2 separate regions of the Homo sapiens genome follow, and region 2 is linked to region 1. The links come from fine-mapping of genetic effects on gene expression. A gene starts in region 1. The other region holds a variant in brackets. All regions are shown on one strand. Distances are between the middles of the regions. Region 1 holds the start of IL18BP (interleukin 18 binding protein). Region 2 overlaps NUMA1 (nuclear mitotic apparatus protein 1).

Evidence for each region. PIP is the estimated chance that this variant, and not a neighbour inherited with it, causes the effect. A credible set is the group of variants that fine-mapping cannot tell apart.
Region 2: its variant is the best candidate, but not a certain one, in a credible set for the expression of IL18BP in whole blood (INTERVAL, PIP 0.59).

Annotation. Positions count from the first base shown.
Region 1 is chr11:71,997,630-72,000,537 of GRCh38, forward strand. It overlaps IL18BP (interleukin 18 binding protein), which reads left to right and starts at 1,280. Exons shown (of 6, transcript NM_001039660.2): 1 at 1,280-1,390; 2 at 2,298-2,383; 3 at 2,722-2,908. The coding sequence starts at 2,356.
Region 2 is chr11:72,060,248-72,063,155 of GRCh38, forward strand. The region is part of intron 2 of NUMA1 (nuclear mitotic apparatus protein 1); the gene reads right to left. Among named protein-coding and RNA genes, the nearest start is that of MIR3165, 11 kb to the right of the region's middle. The variant T/TTTTC (reference allele first, on the strand shown) is at 1,239.

The DNA.
Region 1 (2,908 bases):
CCCTGGGGTCCCCAGGGGTGTCTTGCCTTTGTTAACCCCCATCGGAGACCTGAGGGTCTGGGGGTGGTTGGGCCTGCCTTTCTGCTGTTCCCAGCTGTTCCCCTGCTGACATCCCTAGGAGTGGTGGAATGCCAGGCTCCTGTCCTGTGGCCTGGGGGCCTGGGGCATCATTGGGCCTGCCTTCAGACTGAGGTTGCTCTATGTTCTCACTGCCTGAGGACAGTGTCCCGCCACCACCTGCCTTCCTGAGGACCACACTCAGGCTCGGCTTCTCTTCCCCAGCTGTGGCTTCCCATGGTACCCTGCTGCTTATGCCACCTGTGGGGCTGTTCCCCTCCTCAGAGAGGGGAATGGGGCTGGTCAGAGGACCTAGGGATCACCCTTCCTTTTACTTTTTCCCCCCACCCCCCTGTCAGGCTCAGGTGAGAAGCCGAGGCCAGGCTGTCCAAAGCTCTTTTCATGTGTAACAGTTCTGAGTCCCTTGACCTCCCCCCTTGGCCTGACTCTGGTCTCGGTTCCACTAAGACAGAGTCCTGTCATCTTTCCCTACCATCCCCCACTGGACTGTCTCTCTCAGAAACCCCAGGCAGCCTTGCCTCCTGACCTAACTCCTGGAGATGCTGGTGTTCTTGGGAGGAATTTCTCCTGCATCTTACATGCTAGAAGCCCCTGGGGCAGGAGGTAGGGGGAGGAATTGAGAGGAGGAAAAACATGAACTAGACACCTAGAGAAGAAGGATGTGACTTGTAGTATCCTATGTCTAAATTAGGAATATGAATCTGGTTTTTCTACAAGAAGTTTGAGATCACAGCTGACTGTGTTCCTGATGCATCCACCAAACCCAGTTCCATCTGTGGGCCTCCCTGGCTCTGTCACCAGCCGTTGCACCCTCCCAATCACAGGAGTCACAAACCTCAGACATGCAGCTCCTGTCCACACTTAATATATGCATGCATTGGATCACCCAGCCCTGGTCTTTCTGCCTCCATGGATAACTGCATGACCCTGAGAGAAAACCTCCTTAGATTTAGCATCCTAGGTTCCTCACACGCCTCACCCTGAATCCTGGCCCTCCCGCAGCCCCAGCGCCATTTGTCCCATCAGTGACAAGATTCATATTCTGATGTAGACTCTGTTGCCAGAGCCAGTGTTGAGCCAGTCCGCCTCTTCCCCGGGAAGTGCCTGCCCTTCCCTCCTGTTAGGGTTGGCTCTCGAGCTTGTGTGCCAGTTCCTGGGTTGGCCGTGAGAGTTCTACAGACAAGGAGGAAGTGCTCTCGGTGTATTTCCTGTGGTGGGTTCACACGCAGCTAGACACAGCTAACTTGAGTCTTGGAGCTCCTAGAGGGAAGCTTCTGGAAAGGAAGGCTCTTCAGGACCTCTTAGGAGCCAGGTAGGAGTCTGGGACTACTAGTGAACCTAGACCTGTGGCTCTGGCCAGAGGGGCTAGGATGAGAGACAGAGGGTGTGATGGTGGGTGCTGGGAGATGTAGCCGACCTTGGGGCTGGTGGCTGGGGGAGTGGGTAGCCTGGGAAAGGCCAGGATGTGGACGGACTGGTATGGCATTGAGCCTGAAGTGGTCCAACTTGGGGTTCCCCAGTGCCTAGGAAAGTTGTCCCCTTGAATGTCAGTGTGAAGGTGAAGGAGGAAGCAGATGCCTGTTCATATGGAAACAAAGACCTGGCTGTGAAGAGGGGAGGCGGACACCAAAGTCCTGACACTTGGGCGGGACAGAATTGATCTGTGAGAGACTCATCTAGTTCATACCCTAGGTGACCCTGGGGGTGGCATGGGGGTAGATTAGAGATCCCAGTCTGGTATCCTCTGGAGAGTAGGAGTCCCAGGAGCTGAAGGTTTCTGGCCACTGAACTTTGGCTAAAGCAGAGGTGTCACAGCTGCTCAAGATTCCCTGGTTAAAAAGTGAAAGTGAAATAGAGGGTCGGGGCAGTGCTTTCCCAGAAGGATTGCTCGGCATCCTGCCCTTCCCAGAAGCAGCTCTGGTGCTGAAGAGAGCACTGCCTCCCTGTGTGACTGGGTGAGTCCATATTCTCTCTTTGGGTCTCAATTTTGCCTTCCCTAATGAAGGGGTAAGATTGGACTAGGTAAGCATCTTACAACCATTTGTGGTCATGAGAGCTGGGGTGGGGAAGGATTGTCACTTGACCCCCCCAGCTCTGTTTCTAAGTGCTGAAAGAGCTCCAGGCTATGCTACGGGAGGAGAAGCCAGCTACTGAGGAAAAGCCAGCTACTGAGAAAAAGCGGGAGTGGTTTACCATTCTCCTCCCCCACCTTTCACCAGAGAAGAGGACGTTGTCACAGATAAAGAGCCAGGCTCACCAGCTCCTGACGCATGCATCATGACCATGAGACACAACTGGACACCAGGTAGGCCTTGGGGCTACGCATGGGCAGGCGGGGTAGGGTGAGGTCTATGAACAGAATGGAGCAATGGGCTAACCCGGAGCCTTCACTCCAAGGCAAACCACCCAGCGCACCTGGTGCTGTTGCTTTAAGAACCTGGGCAGATATTGTAGCTCTGGCTCCAGTCTAAAGCTTCTCTGTACTCTGTTCAATAAAGGGCTAAGGGGTGGGTGCTGAGGGGTCCCTCTTCCCGCTCTGATTCCCTGGCTAGAACCCAGACATCTCTGGGCTGGAGTTACATCCTTACCCGGGCAGCCCACTCTGTCTCCAGAGCCGCTGACCTGTAACTGTCCTTTCCTCAGACCTCAGCCCTTTGTGGGTCCTGCTCCTGTGTGCCCACGTCGTCACTCTCCTGGTCAGAGCCACACCTGTCTCGCAGACCACCACAGCTGCCACTGCCTCAGTTAGAAGCACAAAGGACCCCTGCCCCTCCCAGCCCCCAGTGTTCCCAGCAGCTAAGCAGTGTCCAGCATTGGAAGTGACCTGGCC
Region 2 (2,908 bases), 63 kb after region 1:
GTCTATGGCTGCTTTTGTTCTCCAATGGCAGAGGTGAGTAGTTACAACCACATGGTCTGCAAAGCCTAAAATATTTACTACTGGGGTCTAAACAGAAACAATAACTTGCCTAAGCACAGTGACTCACACCTGTAATCCCAGTGCTTTGGGAGGCTGAAGGTGGTGGACTGCTTGCTGTTTGAGCCCAGGAGTTCGAGACCAACCTGGGCAACATGGCGAGATTCCATCTCTACAAAAATTAGAAAAATAGCCAGTTGTGGTGGCATGCACCTGTAATCCCAGATACTCAGGAGGCTGAGGTGGGAGGACTGCTTGAGCCTGGGAGGCCAAGGCCGTGGTGAACTGCCATTGTGCCACCACATTCCAGCCTGGAAGACAGAGTGAGACTCCATGTCGAAAAAACAAAACGCACACACACAAAAAAAACAAGAGTTAAAAACTAAAGAAAAGCTCAGGTCTGGGCACAGTGGCTCATGCCTGCAATCCCAGTACTTAGGAAGGCTTAGCGAGACCCCATCTCTACAAAAAATAAAAAAAATTAGGCTAGGCACGGTAGCCCACACCTGTAATCCCAGCATTTTGGGAGGCCGAGGCGGGCGGATCACGAGGTCAGGAGAATCGAGACTGTCCTGGCCAACATGGTGAAACCCCATCTCTACTAAAAATACAAAAATTAGCTGGCCGTGGTGGCGTGTGCCTGTAATCCCAGCTACTCAGGAGGCTGAGGCAGGAGATCACTTGAACCAAGGAGTTGGAGGCTGCAGTGAGCCGAGATCGTGCCACTGCACTCCAGCCTGGCGACAGAGCAAGACTGTCTAAAAAAATTTAAAAAATTAAAAATTAGCCAGGCACAGTGCTGTGTGCCTGTAGTTCCAGCTACTTGGGAGGCTGAGGCAGGAGGACCCCTTGAACCAAGGAGTTCGAGGTTGCAGTGAGCTATGATCACACCACGGCACTCCAAAATCTGGGTGATAGAGCAAGACCCTGTCTCAAAACAAAAAAAGAAAAGCTTCTCAGTGGGGATTAGTTATGGTCTAATTGGCCACAGCCAGAGCATGGCTATGTTACAGTGTGTGGCTCATTTTCAAATAACTTTATATGCAGTATAGGTCTGGTATATAATCCCAAAGGAAAGAGCCCAAAACACTCAAATGAAGTCAAAAGACTTATCTTTACTTATGGGTTGCAACACTAAAAGATTTTCTATGCACTACTCTTCGTCTTCCTTGTTTCTTTTC[T/TTTTC]TTTTTTTTTTTTTTTTTTTTTTGAGACAGAGCCTCATTCTGTTGCCCAGGCTGGAGTGCAGCGGTACAATCACAGTTTACCACAGCCTCAACCTCCCAGGCTCAAGCGATCCTCCTTCCTCAGACTCCTGAGTAGCTGGGACCACAGGCAGGTACCACCACACCTGGCTAATTTTTGTATTTTTTGTAGAGACAGGGCCTTGTCATGTTGCCTAAGCTCATCTCAAACTCCTGGGCTCAAGTAATCCTGCCTCTGCCTCCCAAAGTGCTGGGATTATAGGCATGAGCCACCATGCCTGGCCCCTTATTTAATTTCATCTGGTTCCTACTGTCCTTCAATGATTTTGACAATGTAGTTCCTACCCACACACCACAATAATACAAAACCAAAGCAAACTCCACTATGTCTGCTGCTAAACACCCCCAACAAACACACATACACATCACACCACACCACACAACACAACACAGGTGTCTCCTTCCCTTTTGCTAGCAGATTCGCTAGGAAGCAGCTGCACATTTCCAGCAAGTCGAACAAACTGCTGAGAGCTAGGGCCCCTGACCATTGTGGGAAAGGAAGGCCAATTCTCCCCTCTAGATTGTACCCTTCTGAAGATCCTGGCCATGAAAGAAGTCATTTCTCCAGAGAATTTTAAGCCATTCAGTTCCTATACGGCAGGCAGGAAAGGTGTCATCCTCCCCATATCATCAGTGGAGGAACTCAGTGTAACTTGTTTCATTTCCTCTTACTTCAAAAGGTCATTTTAAGTAATAGGGTCATTTAGGTAATATCAGTGATCTTTTTAATTTCTCCTCGCATTCTCTCCCAAATTTTGGTTTTACAAAATAATGGTTAAAAAAAAAAAGCTATCATACTCTCCACGAAATTTAACTTAATCTAGAATTTTGAATGAGAAATTAATAATCAAAGAACAGTGCATTTTAGGCCAGGCGCGGTGGCTCACTCCTGTAATCCCAGCACTTTGGGAGGCCAAGGCGAGCAGATCACCTGAGGTCAGGAGTTTGAGACCAGCCTGGCCAACATGGTGAAACCCCATCTCTACTTAAAATACAAAAAAGTAGCTGGGTGTGGTGGTACGCACCTGTAATCCCAGCTACTTGGGAGGCTGAGGCAGGAGAATCGCTTGAACCTGGGAGGTGGAGGTTGCAGTGAGCCGAGATCGTGCCATTGCACTCCAGACTGGGGGACAAGAGTGAGACTTCGTCTCAAAAAACAAACAAAGAACAGTGCATTTTCTTACACAAATAAGCAGGTATTAAGTGGTTCTCTGGATAGGAATTTGGCAATACAAATCAAAATTAATGCCTATAATCCTAGCACTTTGGGAGGCCAAGGTGGGCGGATCACCTGAGGTCAAGAGTTTGAAACCAGCCTGACCAACATGGAGAAACCCGTCTTAAAAAAATACAAAATTAGCTGGGCGTGGTGGCACATGCCTGTCATCCTAGCTACTCGGGAGGCTGAGGCAGGAGAATCACTTGAACCTGGAACAGGTGGAGGTTGCAGTGAGCTGAGATTGTGCCATTGCACTCCAGCCTGGGCAACAAGAGCGAAACTCCATCTCAAAAACAAAACAAAACCTTGATATTTGGGCCAGGTGTGGTGGTGGCACATGCCCAAAATCCCAGCACTTTGGGAGGCTGAGGTG